Regions from separate parts of the Homo sapiens genome. Here all the other regions are linked to region 2. Evidence: fine-mapped expression QTL. A gene starts in region 2. Each other region holds a variant in brackets. All regions are shown on one strand. Distances are from middle to middle.

Region 1 (8,205 bases), 190 kb after region 2:
GTGTGGGAGCTGAAGGACAAAATGAGATATTCTCTGAAGAGTGGTTACATCATGCAAAACTATGATGTGTAATGAGGTCACTTAGTTTTCTAAGTACATTATACATTTTGATAAGATTTTCATAGAAAAGCTTGTCTCCTTGGGGAGATCACTCATCTTCCATCTTGACTATTATTTAAACTTTATGGGTCAGATTTATCTTTTTAAAAACTTAACCATAAAGCTCAATTAATTTTTTTTTTTTTTTTTTGAGACGGAGTCTCGCTCTGTTGCCCAGGCTGGAGTGTAGTGGCGCGATCTCGGCTCACTGCAAGCTCTGCCTCCCAGGTTCATGCCATTCTCCTGCCTCAGCCTCCTGACTAGATGGGACTACAGGCGCCCGCCACGATGCCCGGCTAATTTTTTGTATTTTTAGTAGAGACGGGGTTTCACCGTGTTAGGATGGTCTCGATCTCCTGACCTCGTGATCCACCCGCCTCGGCCTCCCAAAGTGCTGGGATTACAAGCGTGAGCCACCGCGCCCGGCTCAATTAATATATTTTAAAAATTAATAGACTTTATTATTTTTATTTTATTTTATTTTTGAGGCAGAGTCTCGCTCTGTCACCCAGGCTGAGTGCAGTGGTGTGATCTTGGCTCACTGCAAACTCCACCTCCCGGGCTCAAGTGATTCTCCTGCCTCAGCCTCCTAAGTAGCTAGGATTACAGGTGCCTGCCACCATACCCGGCTAGTTTTTGTAATTTTAGTAGATACGTGTTTTCTTTCTTTTCTTTTCTTTTTTTTGAGATGGAGTTTCACTCTTTTTGCCCAGGCTGGAGTGCAATGGCATGATCTCGGCTCACTGCAACCTCCGCCTCCCAGGTTCAAGTGATTCTCCTGCCTCAGCCTCCCAAGTAGCTGAGATTATAGTTGTCTGCCACCACGCCTGGCTAATTTTTTGTATGTTTGATAGAGACAGGGTTTCACTATGTTAGCCAGGATGTCTCGATCTCTTGACCTCGTGATCCGCCTGCCTTGGCCTCCCAAAGTGCTGGGATTACAGGCGTGAGCCACTGCGGCCAGTCTAGACTTTATTTTTTAAAGCAGTGTTAGTTTTACAGAAAAATTATGTGGAAAGTACAGAGAGTTTCCATATACCCCTTACTTTCTCCCACAACTTCTATTATTAACATCTTGCATTAGTATAGTACGTCCCTTACAACTAATGAACCAACTCGATACATTATTATTAACCAAATTCCTGAGTTTATTTTATTTCTATTTTTATTTTATTATTATTATTTTTTAGAGGTAGGGTCTCACTGTGTTGTCCAGGCCAGGTTGCAGTGGCATCATCATAGCTTGCTATAGCCTGAAACTCCTGGGCTCAAGCAATCCTCCTGCCTCAGTCTCCCAAAGTGTTGGAATTACAGGTGTGAGCCACTCTGTCCAGCCTGAAGTCCATAGTTTACATTACATTTCACTCTGTTGAGCATTCTATGGATTTTGACAAATGTGTGATGATGTATATTTGCCAGTACACAATTATATAAAATAGTTTTACTGCCCTAGAAACCCCCTGTGCTCCACCTATTCATTCCTCTGCTGAACCACTGGCAACCACTGATCTTTTATAATATCTCCATAGTTTTGTCTTTTCCAGAATGTCATATAGTTGGACATACAGTGTGTAGCCTTTTCAGATTGGCTTCTTTCAGTAAATGATATGCATTTCAGGTTTCTTCATGTTTTTTTGTGGCTTGATAGGTTGTTTCTTTTCATTGGTGAGTAATACTCTATTGTATGGATATACCACATGTTGTTTATCAAACATTCACCTGAAGGATAGACATCTTGGTTGCTTCCAAGTTTGAGCAGTTATGAATAAAGCTGCTATAAACATTCCAGTGCAGGACTTTTCACCTCCTCTGGATAAATATCAAGGAGTGCAATTGCTAGATCATATGGTAAGAGTATGTTTAGTTTTGTAAGAAGCTATCAAACTATATTCAAAGTGACTGTACCATTATACATTCCCATCAGCAGTGAGTGAGAGTTCCTGTTACTCCACATCTTCACCAGCATTTAGTGGTGTCAGTGTTTTGGATTTTAGCCATTTTAATGGGTGTATAATGGTATACCTATTAAAATTGGTTTTTTTTGGAGACAGAGTTTCACAGTTTCACTCTTGTTGCCCTGGCTGGAGTGCAATGGCGCAATCTCGGCTCACTGCAGCCTCCGCCTCCCAGTTTCAAGTGATTCTCCTGCCTCAGCCTCCCAAGTAGCTGGGATTACAGGTGCACGCCACCATGTTCTGCTAATTTTTTTGTATTTTAGTAGAGATGGGGTTTCACTGTGTTACCCAGGCTGGTCTTGAACTCCTGAGCTCAGGTAATCCACCTGCCTCAGCTTCCCAAAGTGTTAGGATTACAGGCATGAGCCACCGCACCTGGCCTCAATTTTTTTTTTTTTTTTTTTGAGACAGAGTTTTGCTCCTGTTGACCAGGCTGGAGTGCAGTGGCACAATCTCGGCTCACTGCAACCTCCGCCTCCTGAGTTCAAGCGATTCTCCTGCCACAGCCTCCTGAGTAGCTGGGATTATAGGCGCCCGCCACTACGCCTGGCTAATTTTTTTTTTTTTTTTAATTAGAGACGAGGTTTCTCCATGTTGGTCAGGCTGGTCTTGAACTCCCCGTTCTCAGGTGATCCGCCTGCCTCAGCCTCCCAAAGTGCTGAGATTACAGGTGTGAGCCACCGTGCCCCGCCTGTTTTGGCTTTTACTGTGAAGACGTGTTAGCCGCTGTGATGACTAGCAAGTGTGGCCCTCCACCCAGTCGCTCTGGGCTCCCAGCTCCTGCATCCTGCTGCAAACTTGACATCTTCCCTCAAGTAACTTGTAGTTGTCTCCTGTCTACTTGCCCAAAATATAACTCTTAAACTTTTCTCTCTGCAAGTTTGTGCCTCTCTCCCTGTCTGACTTCCCCATCTAAATAAATGGTAGACCACCATCTACTCCTTTGTGCAAGCCAGAAATCTAGGAATCATCCTTAAATTCCCTGTTCTGTCTTATCTCTGCTTTCATTCAAAGCATCAGCAAATCCTGTTGGTTCTACCTCTGAAGTTTTCTCAAATACTGTTACTTGACTCATCCTGACTTTTGTTTCTGCTTTATGTTAGGCTAAATGCCCTGAAAACTCTTTTGTACAAAACACCTAGAAATACTGGATAAACTGGGCTTAACAGGGAGGCCCGGTGTGGTGGCTCACGCCTGTAATCCCAGAACTTTGGGAGGCCAAGGTGGGTGGATCACCTGAGGTCAGGAGTTCCAGACCAGCCTGGCCAATACGTAGTGAAACCCCACCTCTACTAAAAAAAAAAAAAAAAATTAGCTGGGTGTTGTGGTGCACACCTGTAGGTGGTGCATGCTTGAACTTGGGAGGCGGAGGTTGCAGCGAGCTGAGATCGCGCCACTGCACTTCAGCCTGGGTGACAGAGCAGGATTCTGTCTCTTAAAAAAAAAAACAAAAAAAGAAAAACAGGAAAATCTTCAGAAGCAAAAACCAAACAATCTCACCAAAGAAATGAGAAGATGGCTGGGCGCGGTGGCTCACGCCTGTAATCCCAGCACTTTGGGAGGCCGAGGCGGGCAGATCACCCGAGATGGGCAGATCACCCGAGGTCAGGAATTCGAGACCAGCCTGGCCAATATGGTGAAACCCCGTCTCTGCTAAAAATACAAAAATTAGCCAGGTGTGGTGGCAGGCGCCTGTAATCCCAGCTACTCAGGAGGCTGAGGCAGGAGAATCGCTTGAACCTGGGAGGCGGAGGTTGCAGTGAGCCGAGATCATGCCACTGTACTCTAGCCTGGACGACAGAGCAAGACTCTGTCTCAAAAAAAAAAAAGGCTGGGTGTGGTGGCTCATGCCTATAATCCTAGCACTTTGGGAGGCCAAGGTGGGCGGATCACTTGAGGCCAGGTGAACATGGCGAAACCCCATCTCTACTAAAAATACT[A/G]AAGTTAGCTGGGCATGGTGGTGGGTGCCTGTAATCCCAGCTACTCGGGAGGCGAGGCAGGAGAATCGCTTGAACCAGGAGGTGGAGGTTACAGTGAACCGAGATCTCGCCACCGCACTCTAGTCTGGGCGACAGAGCAAGACTCCGTCTCAAAAAACAACAACAAAAAACCAACACATGGCCAAAGTGCAGTGACTTACATCTGTATAATCCCAATGTTTTGGGAGGCTGAGGCAGGAGGATCGCTTGAGTCCAGGAATTTGAGACCAGCCTGGGCAACATAGACCTCATCACCAAAAAAAAAATATTTTTTAATTAGCTGGGTTTGGCAGCATGTACCTGTAGTCCTAGCTACTCAGGAGGCTGAGGTGGGAGGATCACTTAGGCCCAGGAGTTTGATAGTTCGAGGTTATAGTGAGCTATGATCCTGCCACTGCACTCCAGCCTGGGCCACAGAGTGAGACCCTGTCTCTTAGAAACAAAACAAAACAAAAAAAAGAAACTGAATTAAAAACAACAAGAACAAAAATGCTGCTTTTTGTTATTGAGTTGTAGCCCAAGTTTCTTGAGGGTAAAGCATTGAAAAGCAGGCAGTAATAGATTTGCTGTTTAAAGAGATTTACTTGCAGCACTATTCACAATAGCAAAGACATGGAATCAACCTAAATGCCCATCAGTGACAAATTGGATAAAGAAAATGTGGTACATACACTGTGGAATACTATGCAGCCATAAAAAACAACGAGATCATGTTTTTGTTTGTTTGTTTGTTTGTTTGTTTTTGAGATGGAGTCTTGCTCTATTGCCCAGGCTGGAATGCAGGTGGCACGATTTCAGCTCACTGCAACCTCCGCCTCCCAGGTTCAAGCAATTCTCTGCCTCAGCCTCCCGAGTAGCTGGGATTACAGGTGCCCTCCACCATGCCTGGCTAATTTTTGTATTTCTAGTAGAGATGGGGTTTCACCGTGTTGGGCAGGCTGTTCTTGAACTCCTGACCTCATGATCCTCCCACCTCGGCCTCCCAAAGTGCCGGGATTACGTGTGAGCCACCGTGCTCGGCTGAGATCATGTTTTTGCAGGAACATGGATGGAGCTGGAGGCTATTATCCTTAGCAAAGTAATGCAGGAACAGAAAACCGAAGACCACGTGTTCTCACTTATAAGTGGGAGCTAAATGATAAGGACTTGTGAACACAAAGAAGGAAACCACAGATACTGGGGTTTACTTGAGGGTGGAGAGTGGGAGGAGGGAGAGGAACAGAAAAGATAACTATTGGGTATTGGGCTTAATACTTAATATTTTATCAAAATAAGCTGTACAACAAACCCCTCTGACATGAGTTTACCTATATAACAAACTTGCACGTGTAACCCCAAACCTAAAATAAAAGTTAAAAAAAAAAAAAAAGGCTGGTTGCATTGGGAGGCTGAGGCAGGCAGAGCACTTGAGGCCAGGAATTCGAGACCAGCTTGGCTAACGTGGAGAAACCCTGTCTCTACTAAAAATTCAAAAATTAGCCAGGTGTGGTGGTGCATGCCTGCAGTCCCAGCTACCAGGGAGGCTGAGGCAGGAGAATTGCTTGAACTCAGGAGGCAGAGGTTGCAGTGAGCTGAGATTGCACCACTGCATTCCAGCCTGGGCGACAGGGCGAGACCTTGTCTCAAAAAACAAAACAAAACAAAACAAAAACCTGTCACTTTGGGAATATCTCAAACCTAGTCATCCAAGTGGTTGTACGATTTTAGTGTCTGCATATCAATATTTAGTGTGATCTACTTTCTTAGATTCTCAAATACTGCCAATGGGCACATGTCATGAAATAATGTCTTTTAGAGGACAAGAGAGTGCTAAAGTCTCATTATTGCAGTTTAAGAAAAACAATTCTGTAACAGTTTAACTTTATAGGAAATGCCTTTTGTTTATTTATTTTTTTTCTTTTGAGGCTTAGATTTTTATTTTTATGTTTTTAGAGATGGGGTCTTCCTATGTTACCCAGGCTGGCCTTGAATTCCTGGGCTCAAGTGATCTTCCTGCTTCAGCCTCCTGAGTAGCTGGGACTAGACGTCCACTACTGCTCCTGGCTGGAAGTTTAGATTTTAATTTAAACTCTTCTATTGGGAAACTTTGTATGTTTGCTTTACCACTTAACATTTGCATGCATTATTGTACCTATTGTCTCCTACTTAAGGAAGGGCAGTTTATGCTGTTATATGAAGTGAATTAACCTCCTATGGTACTTCAGTTTTCTCTATGCTAAAAGTGTGTTCTAGATTTTTGAAAAACTTACTTAATTTTCATTCATTTATTCAAATATTTGAGCATTCTGTAGTTGCTGGGGAAATAGCAGTGAACTGAAGAATGTCTTTGTTCTTATGGGGCTTAAGTTCCTAGTTGATCATATTGGAAGGAGATACATGAAAAAAGAAATATATGAACAATGGAGGGCGATGAGTACTGTAAAGGAGAATTCAGCAGGGGAGATGTTGCTGTTTTAGATAGAGGGGTGTCAAGAGACATTGTGCAGAGACCTGAACGAAGTGAGGGAGCAAGCCATGGAGATATCTAGGGAAAGAGCCTATCAGGTGGAGAGAAGAGTCCTAGGGCAGAAACGGGCAAGGTGTGTTCCAGGAGCAGAGAGGGGACAGCTGTGAGCAAGGGGAGAGTTGTAGGGAAGGAGGCAAAGAGAGACATCTGGGGCAAAATGGATTGACTGGTGGGCCGTGGTAGGACTTTGGATTTTTTCCTGAGTGGGTTTTGAGCAGGGGAATGAAATGATCTGACTCTGGTTTTTTTTTTTTTTGGAGACAAAATCTTGCTCTGTTGCCGAGGCTGAAGTGCAGTGGCGCAATCTCGGCTCATTGCAACATCTACTTCCTGGGTTCAAGCTATGCTCCTGCCTCAGCCTCCCGAGTAGCTAGGATTACAGGCTTGGGCCACCATGCCGGCGAATTTCTGTTTTTATTTTTATTTTTTATTTATTTTTATGTTTATGTTTTTTGAGACGGAGTCTCGCTGTGTCACCCAGGCTGGAGTGCAGTGGCGCGATCTCAGCTCACTGCAACCTCTGCCTCCCCGGTTCAAGCAACTTCTCCTGCCTCAGCCTCCCGAGTAGCTGAGATTACAGGCGCCTGCCACTACACCTGGCTAATTTTTGTATTTTTAGTAGAAACGGGATTTCACCTTGTTGGCCAGGCTGGTCTCGAACTCCTGACCTTAATTTATCTGCTCGCCTTGGCCTCCCAAAGTGCTGGGATGACAGGTTTGAGCCACCGTGCCAGCCAGGACTCTTATTTTGAAAGGATCTGTAATGTGGAGAATAGAAGGTAGAGGGACAAGGATGAAAGCATCCAGGCCAGTTAGCCTAGTCCAGCTATCTAGGTAAGAGATGCTGGTGGCCTGGATTAAGGCTGCGTCAGTGGGAGGTTGTGAGAAAGGCTCACCTTCCTTTTTTTTTTTTTTTTTTTTTTTTGAGACAGGATCTTACTCTGTCTCCCAGGCTGGAGTGCAGTGGTGCAATCTCAGCTTACTACAACCTCCGCCTCCTGGGCTCAAGTGATACCCCCACCTCAGCCTCCCAAGTAGCTGGGATCACAGGCTTGCGCCACTATATCCGGCTAATTTTTGTATATTTCGTAGAGACAGGGTTTTGCCATGTTGCCTAGGCTGGTCTCAAACTCCTGAGCTCAAGTGATCCACCCGCCTCAGCCTCCTAAAGTGCTGGGATTATAGGCCTGAGCCATTGTGCCCGGTCACTTCCAGATTTTGAAGACAGAGCCAACAGGATTTGTTAATGGATTAGGTGTGGCAGGAGGAGGGGGAGGAAGAGAGAGAGAGACTGGAGTTGAAGTTAAGGCTCATTTCAAGGTTTTTAGCCTCAACATGTGCAGGAATGGAGTTGTCACTTGCTAGAATGGGGGAGACTGGAGGAGAAGCCGGCTGGGAGAGGTTTTTAATGAAGGGGTTGGCTTTGGATACATTAAGTTTGACATGCATTTTAGACATCCAGGTGGAGATATTGAAGAGGCAGTTGGCTATAAGTGTCTGATGTTCATATTAGCGGATGGGGCTAGAGACATAAATTTGAGAATTGTCAGTGTATAAACGTTGTTTTGAAAGAAAGTGGGGCTGAATAATTTAGAAAGGAGTGCATAGAGAAAATAAGTTTACTATTAAAATAGCTTTAACAGGCCGGGCACGGTGGCTCATGCCT
Region 2 (8,205 bases):
ATAAAACACGGCAGTACCTAGAAAGTCTACACCTTACTCAGAAGAACACAGCTGGTCAGTGGGAGGGCCAAAGCTCGCCTCTGGCTAGCCTCAAAGGCCATTCTCTTAACCACTGCATTGCCCAGGCTTCCAGCTCAGGCCTGGGCCCTGCACTTGTGGCTTAAGGATCCCAAAGATACTTAGGGGCATTGGAACAGGAAGCAGACACCATACAAGCAACATCTCAGAACATTCACCTTTAATTCTGTTACAGGTTCCAGTATTTGCGCTGGCCCTAGTCAGCTGTGGGTAAGAGTCACCCATGGGCAAGAGTGGGGAGGGGACTGCTCCCCCATGAACCACATCCTCAGTGTTGGCCAAATACCAGCGTGTTGGGTAGGCTTCCTGTGTCCACCAGGCCTGGCCATGTCCTGCACAGTATAGCTTGGACCTCTGGGCCTGAACCAGGGTGAGCATCAAGGCCCCCATTTCTCCTCACCACGGGGTCGCTTGTCAGCTCCAGGAGCCAGTCTGGCCCCACTGAGAACTTTTCAGTCGAGGGCCTGATGAGTCTTGGGAATGCGCTTCTGCAAGAGGGCCCAGGCTTTCTCCACCTTCAGACAGGCCAGGATGTTGGGAGGAAGAGAGGGCAGGGTCAGGCAGTACCCACTGGAGACTCCTTCCCCACAACCCGGCCTTGCCCTGGGCACCAACCTGGCGTTGGGTGATATGCGGCTCCCACAAGGTGCTGAGCACCACGTGGCTCTGTTCCACAAGCTGCTGCCCGCTCATCTGGCTCTGCAGCCGGCTTTGAGCCGCGGCTTCACTGAGGCCATCCCTCTCCACAATGCGTCTTACAGCCTGAGCACAGACGAGACATTTGTCAGGAAGAATTCCAGCTCACAGGATAGGATCTGCAGTAGGGATGGTGTGGGGGGTGGGGCGAGATACCTCAGTCTCTGGGATGACAGCAGTCCACACCTCATGGACCAGGTTCTGCCAGCCGGCTTCAAGCAACACAGCGGCATCAATCACACACACACGCTTTCCTGTGGGGAGACCCCAGTCACCGCCAGCAGTGCCGACGTTCTCCCAGGCAGAACACAGTCCCAGGGTGAACAGACAGTCCCACGTTGGGCAGGGAAGCTCCCAGGGGAAGAAACAGCTTAACTGTCCCCTTAGCTGTTGCCATCCTCCCTCCCACTCACCCTCAGCCACAGCCCGATCCATCTCCTCTCGGGCCAGCTTTGCGATAATTGGCCACATAATGTCCGTGAGTATCTTCAGCTGCTTCTGGGGAGGGGAACAGAGGGCAGAGGTTACCTTCTCTAGAAGAGGCAGCCAGCCCGAGCAAGGTGGTGTTGGGAACAGATCAATGGAAATGGCATTCTGGGCCAGACCAGAGAGGTCCACTGGACCCTGACCCCTGGGTCTAGTAGCGGCTTAGGAGCCCTTAGGAAGTTATTGTTTACCTTATTCCCAAACACCCGGCTGCCTAGGACCTTCCTGTTGATGATGCCATCTTTATGGAGAATATCTGGACAACACAGACAGACAACTGAGCACAGAGGCCTGGCTAGCTCCTCACTCCAGGCCACTTTCAGCCTTCCCCAGTTATTACCTGTTCCAAAGGCCTCCACCACAGGCTGGTAGGCAGGGCCACCTGGGGCATAGGCCCGATGACCCAGGTGGTCACTGTCAATGACAAACGCCCCCAGGCCCTTCAGTCGCTGAGCTATTGAGCTCTTCCCAGAGCCACTGATGCCAGTCAGCCCAATTACATAGAGACATGTGGGGAGCTCTGGCCTTTCCTGGGGATAGGTGAAAGGGAACCCACAGTTACTGGGGCCCTCAGCCTCATGCCTGGGGCTGAGCCCCTCAGCTTCTACTCTCCAGCATTGCCAGGACACCAAGCAGGAGGGAAGGAGGGAGAGGAGCTTACATATGGAGGCCGAAGCAGGTTCCCCAACATTCGCTGGCGGAAGCTGGAGGAGCTGACTTTGTCCTCTTCATTCTCTGTATGTCTGAGGTCCTTCAGCAGCTGGATCTGGTACAAAGCAAGTTCCTCCAGGTCCTGGGGTAAAGAGGAAAGGGTAAAAAGAGGGAAGGAGGGAGTGAGAGGAAGACCCTGACATCCAACCTGCCCCCCCATCCTCCCCTTCCTACCCAGGCTCCTCCTCCTCCGACTCAGCGGGCAAACTGAGAACCAGTTCCTCCTTGCTTCTTCCCACCACCCTGAGCCCCCACTTCTCTCCTCTGGGGCCATGGTACTTCCAACAGCCCCCTCAAAATGGCCTTCCCCGTCCCCCATCCACTCCCTCTGCCAGTCTCCCTCAGGGGTTACATTCTCAAGGCGGAAGCGGTTGATGGCCATCCCCCCACGATAGGTCTCCTCGCTGACCACCAGGAACTCCAGGGAGGGGTCAGAGCCAGCGGGCCCATAGGGGTCCAGCAGGGGGATGACATCAAAAGTCAAGGAGGGCTTGATGTCCACCAGGAATTCACTCAGATGTTCCACACGTTCTGTATAAGGTTGGAGCAGCTCAGGGAGCAACTTGCCTGGGGAAGGAGCCCAGAAGAACAGTGAGATCTTTTTATTGGGGAGGAGAGTATGGGCCAGTTTGGGAAAAAGTGTCCCTAAGTACAGTATCCCCAGAGGGGGTGGCAGAAAGGGTTCAACTGGTAAGGCCTATGGTGATGGTGAGGGGAGCATGAAGGTGAAGAAACAGGCAAGCACAATAGTCACTCCAAGGGCTGGCATGTGTCCAGAGAATAAGCCACCAGGAAACCACTCCAGAGAACGAGCAGTGCCAGAGGGCATCAGAGGCAGATGGAAAATTCCAAGACCCATGCCATGCTTGAGTTTCCTCCTCCTGTCTGTGGCACTGCTACCTGCAGCTCACTCACCCATTCATTCCCAGTGTCTCATTAGGGTGTATCACCTGGAAAACTTGCTAAAATGCAGATCCCTTTGCTTCACATTTGGGGTATTCTGATTGAGTGGTGACTGGACCACATGCTGAGAAAGCTGTTCATTTGACAAAATGGCCTTAGCACCAATTGAGTGTCAACCACTGTGACATTTGGGAAGGGTGGGAAGTAATGAATGGCCCTACCCTTCCTTGATCTCGGCATAAGGGTCGGGGGTGGGGAGATTTGGGGATCCTCCACCCTAGTCCAGGGTCCCTCTTACTCACTCTTCAACAGATCTTTGTCTGCTACTCCCACCACAAGCTGCTCCTGGGCCAGGATGCACGCGACACTGAGCAACACCTTGTGGGCGTTGTGCAGGCGGTCAAACGTGCCACCGACAGCGCCACGGTAGTAGCCACGCACCGGCTGCTTTGGAGACCCGGCCACGGGGGAAGCTGGCCTGATCGTGGAGGGTAAGGGGACATCCAGGGGCTCCACGGGCACTTCTCCTATCCCATAATCGGAGTATAGCAGCACCGAGGCCAGTCGCGGACAACAGCTGTAACAGCTGGTGGCGTAACGCACTAGCTGCTGTTTGACCGGGTTGTACTGGCTTCCATCCAGGGTCTGGAAATCTGTCAACACGACTTCTGGCGGGTGGGCGAGATTCTGGACTGAGGTGGGCAGGGGAGGGAGAAAGGTGCTCTTGGTTCGGATATTGGTCAGTAGGATTCTGACGTCCAAGTGCCTGTGGACGTCGGCGCCAGCATAGAGGTGCGTGATGAAATCAAGAACCTCAAACGTGGCCTGCACGGGGCTGGACTGGGGCTGAGCCGGGCCCTCCAGGCTCATGCCCGGCTGCAGGTGAACATAGAGTGTGTGATTCACCAGCCGGGCCGCCGAGGTCAGGATGGAGGCCAGGCGAGGGGCTAGGGAGGCCAGCGGCGTCGTCAGCACCAGGAGACCCGACCGGAATACGGCCATGCTGCCCAGGCCTGCGGACAGTCAGGGAGACGAGGCGACGGTGACTGAAGGGCCTGCGGCCGAGGCAGAGGCCTGTATGGGACCTTGGACCCCAGAGAAGGAGGCCTGGAGCAGGGACGGGGTTTCAGTGCTGACCGACAGGAGCCGGGGGAGGGGACGGGGCCTGGTAGACGGCGCCTCGGGGCTGTGCTCTAAGCCTTGGTGTCCTCATTTCTCAGACGGGGCGGTGACTTCGCTGAACTGAGTCGAAATCCTGGGAGGGGGAAACTGGACAGGAACCCTTGTCACAGGGCTGGGGATCCAAAAATCCTGGGCCCTCTTGCTAAGCTGCACCAGGGTCTTCAAGGAATCGAAGAGGGAGGCTAAAGGGGGACGCTAAAGCTCACGTCGGCCCCCTACTCACTGAAACCTCAAGGCTTGGGTTCCACTTGCACCACCGCGGAGGCTTCCCTGGCTGCAACCCGGAAGCACTAACGGAGAAACCGCAACTCGGAACTACGGAAACGGAGGAAGGTCAAACGTCTCGACTTCGCTTCAGCGCGGGATTCTCGCGAGATTTCCAGTGGCATGGGCTGTGTCCTGCTGATGGGGTGGGGCTGATCCCGAAGGCTCTGGGAGTGGGTGAAGCCTTGATGCCGATCGGACCCCCGCTGGGACCGGGCGGAGAAAGGCAAGGCAGGTTTCAAAGCCCATTTCACAGATTCCCTTCTGGCCTGATGAGGAGAGATTAGTTTCAGCCAGGCCACCCAAGAGGCATCGGCAAAGCCAGAACTAACACCCAGATTTCCTTCATTCCAGGGACAGAGGTGGGGAATCACAGGGCTGCGCTGTATTAGCCCTCCTAGTACCCTCTCAGTCCGAGGATTCTCACATGGGAGGCTACTGGACAGGTCTGTCCACGTACCCATTTCACAGATGGAAAAACTGAGGCCTTGTGTGTACCTGGCTGCTGTAGGAGGCTCTCGCACCACCCAGATCCTCTGATGCGCTTGTTTGCGGGGTCTCTGTGGACAGGAGAAAAAGGCAAAGGCTGATTGGGCGCGGTGGCTCACGCCTGTAATCCCAGCACTTTGGGATGCCGAGGTGGGCAGAGCATCTGAGGTCGGGAGTTCGAGACCAACCTGACCAATATGGAGAAACCTTGTCTCTACTAAAAATACAAAATTAGACGAGCGTGGTGGCGCATGGCTGTAATCCCAGCTACTCAGGAGGCTGAGGCAGGAGAATCGCCTGAACCCGTGGGCGGAGGTCGCGGTGAGCCAAGATTGTGCCATTGCACTCCAACCTGGGCAACAAGAGCGAAACTCCCGGCCGGGCGCGGTGGCTGACGCCTGTAATCCCAGCACTTTGGGAGGCCGAGGCGGGCGGATCACGAGGTCAGGAGATCGAGACCATCCTGGCTAACACGGTGAAACCCCGTCTCTACTAAAAATACAAAAAAAAATTAGCCGGGCATGGTGGCAGACGCCTGTAGTCCCAGCTACTCGGGAGGCTGAGGCAGGAGAATGGCGTGAACCCGGGAGGAAGAGCTTGCAGTGAGCCGAGATCGCACCACTACACTCCAGCCTGGGTGACAGAGTGAGACTCCGTCTCAAAAAAAAAAAAAAAAAAAAAAAAGCGAAACTCCCTCTGGAAAAAAAAAAAGAAAAAAGAAAAAGGCAAAGGCTGGATACCTAGTGTGGGAGATTTACTGCGAAGCTAATGGGCGCTTGAAAGGCTGAGTGTGGAGGGGAAGCCAGGTTGCTATTAGAATACATCTCAGGTAAGTTGTGCATGGAGATCAAAAGGGAGAGAAGCCAGTCTCCAAGATTCCAGTAATGTGCCGTGGTATCCGAAACTTAAAAAAAAAAACAAAACTCACTTTTATATGTAATTTTGTGTTTATCTTTTGTATTCTTGAAGACGGTCTCCAAAAGCAAATAAGCCCCCAGCCCCACAAAACCTGGGCTTATGATGGAGAAAAGGAGATGCTATTTTAGATAAGGTGATTCAGGAAAACAGCAAAGACCTGGAGGAAGAGATACAGTCAAGGAGGGAAGAGTTGTAGAGCCACAAAGGTATTAAGGGACCAGGCTTCTCACAGGAGACATGTTAGATTTAAAGATAGGGTCTGATTTGAAGACACAAACAGCAAAGGCTGCCAGAGAATGTCCCAAGACATCTGGACACACAGTCTGACACACCACATACAGAGTCATTTTTATTGAGTAAATGTGTATTTTACTGCCTCCCACAGGGATGGACCAGTGAACAAAACAATGTCCCTGCCATCCTGGGGTATAGAGTACTGTGTGTCTTGGGGTTGCAGACAGGAATCATGCCACCATAAATAAATCTATAATACATGGCCAGGCGCGGTGGCTCACGCCTGTAATCCCAGCACTTTGGGAAGCTGAGGCAGGCAGATCACCTGAGGTCAGGAGTTCAAGACTAGCCTGGCCAACATAGTGAAACCCCGTCTCTACTAAAAATACAAAAAATTAGCTGGGTGTGGTGGCGGTACTTGTGATTCCAGCTACTCAGGAGGCTGAGGCAGGAGAATCGCTTGAACCTGGGAGGCAGAGATTGCAATGAGCCGAGATCACGCCACTGCACTCCAGCCTGGGTGACAGAGAGACTCCGTCTCCAAAAAAAATAAAAATTAAATTAAAAAACCCAAATCCATAATATATCTACTGGTGATAAAGGATAAGAACAAAAGTAAAGCAGAGTAAGGGAGCTATAGTGGAGAAGCTGAGAGGCTATTTTAGATAAGGTGGTTCAGGAAAACAGCAAAAATCTGAAGGAAGACATAGAATCAGAGATCAGGGAATGTGACCCAGAGGGGGCCAAGTACAAAGGCCCTGAGGCAGGAGGGCTGAACTGGGTGATGTAGATGGAGATTGGTGGGAGATGAGATCAGAAAGGGGGCAGGAACCAGATCAAAGAAGGTCTTGGAGAGCTTTGGGGAGAACCTTGGTGCTATGGTTCGAATGTCCCTGCCACAACTCATGTTGAAATAAAAAATTCAATTGCTACTGTCTTAAGAGATGGGACTTTTTTTCTCTTTGAGACAGGGTCTCACTCTTGTCCCCCAGGCTGGAGTGCAGTGGGTTGATCATGGCTCACAGCAGCCTCAACTGCCTGGGCTCAAGCAGTCCTCTGCCTTGGCCTCCTGAGCAGCTGGAACTACAGATGTGTGCCACCACACCTGGCTAATTAAAAAAAAAATTTTTTTTTTCATACAGACAGGATCTTGCTGTGTTGCCTGGGCTGGTTTCCAACTCCTGAACTCAAGCAGTCCTCCCACTTCAGCCTCCCAAAGTGTTGGGATTACAGGCCTGAGCCACTGCACTGGGCAGGGTGGGGCCTTTAAGAGGTAATTAGGTCAGCTGGGCGAGGTGGCTCACTCCTGTAATCTCAGCACTTTGGGAAGCCAAAGTGGTGGATCTCAGGTGGATCACCTGAGATCAGGAGTTTGCGACCAGCCCAACCAACGTGGTGAAACCCCGTCTCTACTAAAAGTACAAAAATTAGCGGGGTGTGGTGGCATGCGCCTAAAATCCCAGCTTCTCAAGAGGCCGAGGCAGGAGAAAAAAAAAAAAGATAATTAGATCATGAGGGCTCTGCCCTCTTGAATAGATAAATACTGTTATCATGGGAGTGGCTCCTGATGGATGGACGACATTTGGCCCAATTTCGTGTCTCTCATTTGCTTCCACCTTCTGCCCTTCCATCCTGGGACAGCCCTTTGCCAGATACTGCATGAAGTTCTTGCACTTTCCAGCCCCTAAAACTGTGAAGCTCTGAGCAAAATAAACTTTGCTTCTTTTGTTTTGTTTTAAGACAGAGTCTCACTGTCACCCAGGTTGGAGTGCAACGGCATGATCTCGGCTCACTGCAACCTCTGCCTCCCAGGTTCAAGTGATTCTCCTGCTTCAGCCTCCTGAGTAGCTGGGATTACAGGCACCCACCACCACGCCCAGCTAATTTTTCTATTTTTAGTAGAGACAGGCTTTCACCAGGTTGGCCAGGCTGGTCTTGAACTCCTGACCTCAGGTGATCCACCCGCCTCGGCCTCCCAAAGTGCTGGGATTAAAGACATGAGCCACCGCACCCGGCCGAGTCTCACTCTTTACCCAGGCTGGAGTGCAGTGGAGAAATCTCAGCTCACTGCAACCTTCGTCTCCCGGGTTCAAGCGATTCTCCTGCCTCAGCCTCCCGAGTAGCTGGGATTACAGGCACAAACTACCACGCCCAGCTAATTTTTGTATTTTTAGTAGAGACGGGGTTTTACCATGTTGGCCAGGCTGGTCTCGAACTCCTGATCTCAAGTGATTCACCGGCCTT
Region 3 (8,205 bases), 1.0 Mb before region 2:
GAGGACTGGCTCAAATGCTGCCTCCCCACTTCCCCAAGCAGAGCCCCTCTCTCAAATCCCTGGGACACTCAGAGCACACCTCTGCTGGAGAGAGATCTGATTTGCAGGGTTGCTGGCCTGAGCTTACTCATTGACTCCCCTTGCTATTCACTAGCTCTGTGACTTTGGGAAACTTTCTTTTCTTTCTTTTTTTTTTTTTTTTTTTTGAGAAGGAGTTTCGCTCTTGTTGCCCAGGCTGAAGTGCAATGGTGCCATCTCAGCTCACCACAACCTCCGCCTCCCAGGTTCAAGCGATTCTTCTGCCTCAGCCTCCCGAGTAGCTGGGACTATAAGCATGCGCCACCACGCCTGGCGAATTTTGTATTTTTAGTAGAGACAGGGTTTCTCCATGTTGGCCAGGATGGTCTCGAACTCCTGACCTCAGTTTATTCACCCACCTCGGCCTCCCAAAGTGCTGGGATTACAGGCGTGAGCCACTGCGCCCAGACACTTAGAAACTTTCTAACAGAGAAGTTAGAAAGAAACTTCTCTACGCTGTACACATATATGATGTGGAATAAATGAGTAGCACATGCAAAACATTTAGCCTGGCACATGATGAACGATGAAAGATTTGCTGTTGTTCTTGACTGTCGTTGACCCTGTATTCTCATCTCCTAACACAGTGCCTGGCATGTAGCAATTGCTCAATAAATGAATAAAATGGAAATAATTACTAACTACCTCCTCCCTCTACCCCAGCCCCAGGAATATTCCTGTTTGGAACCCTAGTTGAAACCCCAGGTATAACACCTATTTGCAGTTTCCATTACCCTGGTATTTCCACTGGAAGGCAGGGGCCCAAGGGTTCTGTCTAAATTAAGGCCCTATCCTCCTCCTCACCTGACCCCAAAGGTTCGGCCACAGAGGGCATCTTGAATCAACAGCCACTAGGCATAGAGAAGCCAGAGCTTCACCACCAGCAATCCCTTTCTTTCTTAACTTCCTTTCTCTGACTTTAGCTGTCATCTCTGTTATCAGGAACTAGGATTCCTCAACTGAGCCTCTGCCTCCTTGCCCTGCGCCTCTGGACATGGGTGTCTGGGTCAGACCTCAGGTCTCCTGTTTTCAGTCCATTGAATCTACTGATACACTAGACAGAAGTTCACAGGCATTCAAGCTCCAACTGCCATTCTTGGCTGTGTGAGTCAGGCAAGTCACTTAACCTTTCTGAGCCTCCAGGTTTTGGTACAATAATATAGAGGGCTGGGTGAGACTCCATGGTGCAAAGCTGCACAGAGACGATTCTGTTGGGCTCCCTTCCCTGTAGCAGCGGCCTGCCCTGGGAGAGGGAATAGAGCAGGGTCAAAGCTGAATGACTTGAGGTCTCCAGAGTTTGAGATCCTGAGGGGACCAGCGAAGAGGGGTGGGCTACAGAGCCCTGGAGAAGTGAGTGACTTGGAGGCATGAGCAGACACCCTCCTACCATGGGACAAGCAGGGCACTAGGAGTGTGACTCAAAGCTGCCGTGGTTCTCCCTCACATGCAGTTGCTGAAATTGGGTTGGGCAAAAAGAACAACTCACTCCCCCAGCCCTGTCTGAGCAGAGAAAGTAAGCTTTGTAACTCCCAGAGGGGGGCCAGCAGGACCCAAGGTCACAAATGCCCCCTTCCTCTACCCCCAGGAGACCCACATATACCAGTGATCCCTCTGCACGAGGTCATGGTTCTGAAGTCTCCATCCTCAGTAGAGAGCAGCAGAGACCAAGTGAGGGTCTAGCACCTAGAATGATGGAACTTCCAGGACAAGCCAGCACTAAGCAGGGCAGGAACTCAGAGCCTCTGTGGGCTAGAACGGGAACACCTCCAGGAGTGGCTTCCTCTGCCCTCCTGTTGATATGTACCTATCCTGGGTTGCCTTTAGTGCTTAAACCTCAGTTATGAAAAATGTTATTATTATAACAGCACAGTGCCACCTCCCACCCACCTCCCCGACTAAACAGGAAGTGTCTGGCAGGTAGAGGCCTGTTTTGCACCCCTGTGGACAAACCCCTTCCCCCAGCACCCACTCACTCATTCCTTCACTCACAAACATTTATTAAGCACTGATGTAGTTGCCAGGAGGCCTAAGGCTTATCCTTTAGGGATGTCAGCTGCTAAATCTCCAGAACTTTGGCCTCCCAGGTTCCCAAAGGTAAAATTTCCTCCACTCCATCCCAGAAGGGAGGATGGGGTCCAGCTAGGACCTCTAAGGAGAAGCCACCAGCTTCATGCTTGCAAAGGAAAACCACTTCCCCCTTTTTCTTTCCTCAGTTCCAGGGGTGTGATGGCCCCATGGAAAATTCACAGGCAGGTCTTGGAATCTCTACCAGGGAGATAGCCCAGGCTCCACTCAGGGAAAGCCTTGCCACCGAGACCAGGCCTGCATCCAGGAAAACGTGTCCAAGGCCACTGATGTACAAAAGCTTAGGCAACCAGACACTCTGACCTACCAGGGCCTCTCACGCTAGCCTGGAATTACTCTCAGCTTCGTGGCCAGCCGGCAAAGACATCAGGCCTGGGGCCACAGAGCCAAGATTCCAAAGAGAAAATTCCAAGGCAAATATCTCAAGGGTTTCCAAGGACTATCTCCCCACTTCCCAAAACTCCCTTCCACCGCACCCTAGAGTCTTCCCCCTCCCCTAATTTAACCTTGTGCTTCCCAGACTCCTGCCCTTGGTCCTGATATTCCCTAAGCCCGGAATATCCTCCCTCTAGCCCCACACCCAAATCCTACCCACCTCAATGCTAGCTCCAATGCCACCTCCTCCAAGAAGTCTTCTCTGATCCTCTCAGTGAGGAGGGTCTCTATCTCTCCTTTAAATACCAAAGTCCAGGCCTCTTCTGTGGCTGTGGACAGGTATTTGGCTTCTGAAAGCAAACAAGCCTGGGTTCACAGGCTAGCTCTACCCCTTCCCAGCAGGGCAACCTTAGGCAAGTTCCCTTCCTGCTTCCTGCTGGGCTGCCCTTGCCCCTGCCTTGCCCAGAGACACTTGACCACCTCCCTTGGGCTGCCCAACCTTCAACGTGGATTCCTAGTATTTGTGAATTAGGTTCTCTGCCTGCGAACTTTTTCTGTTCAGGGCCAGAGAGTAAATATTTTAGGCTTTTCAAGCCATACTGTGGCTCTTGCAAATATTAAACTGTCCTGTTGTAACACAAAGCAACCTAAAATAGTAAGTAAGCATGGCTGTGTCCTAATAAAACTATCTCTGCACACTAAAATTTGAATTTGTCGGCCAGGAGCAGTGGCTCATTCCTGTGATCCTAGCACTTTGGGAAGCCAAGGCAGGCGGATTGCCTGAACACGAGTTGGAGACCAGCCTGGGTAATGTGGCAAAACCCCATCTCTACTAAAAATACAAAAAATTAGCCAGGCGTGGTGGCATGCACCTGTAGTCCCAGCTTCTCAGGAGACTGAGGCATAAGAATCGCTTGAACCCGGGAGGCAGAGGTTGTAGTGAGCTGAGATCACGCCAATGCACTCCAGCCTGGGTGACAGAGTGAAACTCCAAAAAGAAAAAAAAATGAATTTCTCATATATTCACATGTCAAAAAATATTGTGTTTAAAAAATGTTTTTTCAGTCATTGAAAAAAAGCACTTTGTAGCTTACAGGCCATACATGTCCTTCCATATCTCTCCTGAGAGCACTCCTTGGCTGTGAACTCAGTTCCAGAGGCTGAACAAAGCTACTCCCTCTGATTCAGCTTCAGCAGGGAGTTTGCAAAGCCCTGACTGTTCCAGGGGCAGGCTTGGGTGCCACAGGGAGCACAGAAGTGAGGCACCCAGCCTGCTCTCTAGGAACTTCTAATCCAGTGGGGAGACTCAAGCCAGATCCACAGTGGGGAGACTCAAGCCAGATCCACAGAGGATTTCATAGTAACACAAGGTTGGGGAAGATGAGCATCATGAAAGAGACCTTATCTTTTCCAATGAACAAATACTTTCTTTTTTTTTTTTTTTTTTTTTTTTTTTTGAGACAGAGTCTCGCTCTGTCACCCAGGCTGGAGTGCAGTGGTGCGATCTCGGCTCACTGCAAGCTCCGCCTCCCGGGTTCACTTCATTCTCCTGCCTCAGCCTCCCAAGTAGCTGGGACTACAGGCATCTGCCACCACGCCTGGCTAATTTTTTGTATTTTTTTTTTAGTAGAGACAGGGTTTCACTGTGTTAGCCAGGATGGTCTCTATCTCCTGACCTAGTGATCCTCCTGCCTTGGCCTCCCAAAGTGCTGGGATTACAGGCATGAGCCACCATGCCCGACCAACAAATACTTTCTTCACAACTTACATTGACAAAGCTGAAGGAGAGCGCTGGTTCCCTGGGAGAAGAAATGCACCAGGAGAGACTTCATGGAGGAAATGGCATTAGACATGGGCTTAAAAGAACAGGAATTCCGGCCGGGCGCAGTGGCTCATGCCTGTAATCCCAACACTTTGGGAGGCCAAGGTGGGTATATCATGAGGTCAAGAGCTAGAGACCATCCTGGCCAACACGGTGAAACCCCGTCTCTACTAAAAATACAAAAATTAGCCGGGTGTGGTGGCGGGCGCCTGTAGTCCCAGCTACTCGGGAGGCTGAGGCAGGAGAATCACTTGAACCCAGGAGGCAGAGGTTGCAGTGAGCCGAGATTGCGCCACTGCACTCCTGCCCGGCAATAGAGTGAGACTTCACCTCAAAAAAAAAAAAAAGAAAAAAAGAATAGGAATTCCAGGACCGAAGC[C/T]GTCACCCTTCACTGTTTCCTCCTGAAAGGCAGCCCCTGACTTTTGCACAAAAACATTGAAGACTTATAGCCCCACACACCTATAATGCCATCACGAGATGGCGGGCTCCTTGGGCAGGGGCAAGGGCCTTCCTCATTTCTGAGCCTCTGGACATTTTTCTGAGCCTAGCACATGTTTTTTTGCAGAGTGTATTTCTGTAAATGCTTGTTGAGACTGTATTGAAGTTGGAGTTAGGGGAGATGATGACAAAGAAGATTCCTGATAGAAATTGGACCAAATGAGGTCGGGCGTGGTGGCTCACGCCTGTAATCCCAGCACTTTGGAAGGCCGAGGCAGGCGGATCACTTGAGGTCAGAAGTTCGAGACCAGCCTGGCCAACATGGTGAAATCCCTTCTCTACTAAAAATACCAAAATTAACTAGGCCTGGTGGTGTGTGCCTGTAATCCCAGCTACTTGGGAGGTTGAGGCAGGAGAATCACTTGAACCCAGGAGGCAGAGGTTGTAATGAGCTGAGATCCCGCCACTGAACTCCAGCCTGGGCAACAGAGTGAGTTTCTGTCTCAAAAAAAAAAAAAAAAATCAATTGGACCAAATGGATTAGGTCATTCCCTCCATTTTATCCAGCTCCTCAGGCCCTGAAAGACATTTCCCAAGGAACAAGCCAACTGTCTTGGGCACAACCTTAGACCACCTTAAAGGGGACTCCTCATTCTCACTTCTTACCACAACCTTCTGACTTCTTAAAAATAAGATGTGAAACAGTGATTACTATAACCTGCACGCGTGTGTGTGTGCATGCACACAGACACACACTCACCCTTCCCTCTTCTGACAGCCTCCTTCTGCCTCTTTAAGTGGAAGCTCCACTTCTCTGCCCAGGAAGGTGGGGCCTTTTCTCCCAATAGCCACTGCAGACTGGGCCCCGAGGAACTCAAAGCCACCTCCCCACAGAACCCAAATGAGTGCAGCCAGCACCACCTCGTAAATCAGAAAGGTCATTGCCTCTAACCTGGCACGCCCCAAACCATGACTAAGCAGTTGTTGATACTTCCCCAAGACAACATCATGCAGGAGAAGTTTTGTAACCAAAGGGGAAGGAATTAATTAATGTATGTATGTGAGGTATGAATTGGTTTGGATATACATGTATGGATCGTCTCACCAAGGATACACCAGAAACTGAACATAATGGCTGCCTCCAGGAAGGCAAACTGAGCTGCTAGAGGACAGAGAGAGGAGAGATTTAAAAATTTCACTGGCGAGTACTACATTAGTTTTGAATTTTGTGCCATGTGGGTTTTTTTTTTTTTTTTTTTTTTTTTTTTTGAGACGGAGTCACTCTGTTGCCCAGGCTGGAGTGCAGTGGTGTGATCTCAGCTCACTGCAAGCTCCTCCTCCTGGTTCGTGCCATTCTCTTACCTCAGCCTCCCGAGTAGCTGGGACTACAGGCGCGCGCCACCATGCCCAGCTAATTTTTTTGTATTTTTGGTAGAGACGGGGTTTCACCGTGTTAGCCAGGATGGTCTCAATCTCCTGACCTCGTGATCCGCCCGCCTCGACCTCCCAAAGTGCTGGGATTACAGGCGTGAGCCACCGCGCCTGGCCGCTATGTGGATATCTTATCTATTCAAATAAATAAATGTTTTACAACATGCACAATGTTGTCTTAAGCAAATGCACAATGTTGTTTTAAGCAAATGCAACCTAAAATGTGGATTCAATAGCTTGTTTTCAACTCTGCAGGCACAGCTGGGACAATAAAAGCAGAGATCTGGTTACTACCTTGTAGAAGGACAGAGGGGAAAACAGAGAACCAAATGCCATTTAAAATCTCACCAGGCCGGGCGTGGTGGCTCACACCTGTAATTCCAGCACTTTGGGAAGCTGAGGCGGGTGGATCACCTGAGGTCAGGAGTTCAAGACCAGTCTGACCAACATGGTGAAACCCTGACTCTACTAAAAATACAAAAATTAGCCCAGTGTAGTGGCTCATGCCTGTAATCCCAGCTACTCGGGAGGCTGAGGAAGGAGAATCACTTGAACCTGGGAGGTGGAGGTTGCAGTGAGCCGAGATTGCACCACTGCACTCCAGCCTGGGCCACAAGAGTGAAACTCCATCTCAAAAATAAATACATAAAATATAATAAAATCTCACCAAATGATCATGCCAAACAAGGATCCTGCCTGGGAAAAGACGGGAGTCAGAGAAGCCAGAGGGAGAGAATTGACAGAAAATAAACAGTACCCCCTGGGGAGGTGAGGAAGGGGAGCTCCAGAGGCCCATCCCCCCTCCCAGCATGAGTTTGCATGGGGAGGGGGAAGACATTAAAAGAGAGAGGAGTCGGAGCCTGGTGACTCCCACCCTGTGATGCACAGAAGTTGAAGCCAGAGAGAGAAGGTGGTGCGCAGGAAAACAAGCCGCAGTGCCTGGCTCCACCTCAGCCACTCACGCATCCCCGGCACTTCCCCAATCTGAGACTCAGTTTCTTTGTCTCTACAATGAAGGATTTGGCCCAGACAGATCTCCAAGGTGCCTCACAGCTCTAATATTCTCTGATTTGATGGCTGCAGCCTTCTGCAAATGTGCATAAAATAGATTAGTTTTAGTAGTAGTAAAAACAAAACTGAATATCAGATTTATCATTTTAATTAAATATACTTTACATTCTCAATTTCTAGGGAGCAAAATGCTCCCCCCTCCATCAGTTTTCCCTTTGTGGAAGACATTCATGTGTGACATGCAATTTAAGAAAATGCCAAACCACATTGTAAGATACACAATTAACAAGATCCTAACAGGCATTTCTTAACAGGAAAGTGGGGTTTGGTGGGGTGGGGGAAGAACATAAAAAGGAAATGTCAAGAAGGGGAGGGTCAGGTGGGATCAGGATCCCAGAGAACTGGGGATCAGGCTAGAAAGAACAACGTGCTATTGTCTTTACTCAGCCCTCAGAAGTCACTATCTCTGGAACTCCGTGGAGCTGGGGAGTCTGAAGCGGGTGGTTTGGTTGGTTCCCTCTCCCTGGGTGACATAAAGCAAATTACTCTCTGGACTTTAGAGTGCTCAACTATAAAATGGAACTAAATATACCTACTTTGAGGAATGCTGGGAAAATGTAATAAGATATCTTAAAAGGCTTAGTAAAACAATAAAGTGTAAAGCGCATATACAAACACTGTACTTTTTTTTTTTTTTTTTGAGACGGAGTTTTGCTCTTGTTGCCCAGGCTGGAGTGCAATGATGTGATCTCGGCTCACTGCAACCTCTGCCTCCTGGGTTCAAGCAATTCTCTTGCCTCAGCCTCCCAAGTAGCTGGGATTATAGGTATGCACCACTACGCCTGGCTAATTTTGTATTTTTAGTAGAGGCAGGGTTTTGCCATACTCAAATGATCCATCTGCCTCTGCCTCCCAAAGTGCTGAGATTACAGGCGTGAGCCACTGCGCCCGGCCCAAACACTGTA

Which allele goes with the higher level. Alleles are on the strand shown, and positions count from the first base shown. SD is a standard deviation of normalised expression in the study named. Not every link is listed here.
For the expression in whole blood of the gene that starts at base 4,351 in region 2, allele A in region 1 goes with a higher level than allele G (moderate effect, 0.53 SD a copy in Lepik 2017).

What was found. PIP is the estimated chance that this variant, and not a neighbour inherited with it, causes the effect. A credible set is the group of variants that fine-mapping cannot tell apart.
Region 1: its variant is the best candidate, but not a certain one, in a credible set for the expression of COASY in whole blood (Lepik 2017, PIP 0.61).
Region 3: its variant is the best candidate, but not a certain one, in a credible set for the expression of COASY in whole blood (TOPMed, PIP 0.68).

What each region holds. Positions count from the first base shown.
Region 1 is chr17:42,365,930-42,374,134 of GRCh38, reverse strand. The region is part of intron 1 of STAT3 (signal transducer and activator of transcription 3); the gene reads left to right. Among named protein-coding and RNA genes, the nearest start is that of STAT3, 18 kb to the left of the region's middle. The variant A/G (reference allele first, on the strand shown) is at 3,995.
Region 2 is chr17:42,558,294-42,566,498 of GRCh38, reverse strand. COASY (Coenzyme A synthase) reads right to left here and starts at 4,351. Exons shown (of 9, transcript NM_025233.7): 1 at 3,177-4,351; 2 at 2,324-2,538; 3 at 1,922-2,053; 4 at 1,601-1,790; 5 at 1,452-1,516; 6 at 1,188-1,272; 7 at 931-1,028; 8 at 694-840; 9 at 222-593. The coding sequence starts at 3,876. The coding sequence ends at 531. RefSeq lists enhancers at 134-640, 641-1,147, 3,826-4,015, 4,026-4,275.
Region 3 is chr17:43,553,965-43,562,169 of GRCh38, reverse strand. No RefSeq gene overlaps it. Among named protein-coding and RNA genes, the nearest start is that of ETV4, 12 kb to the right of the region's middle. RefSeq lists enhancers at 5,525-5,594, 7,022-7,522. The variant C/T (reference allele first, on the strand shown) is at 4,740.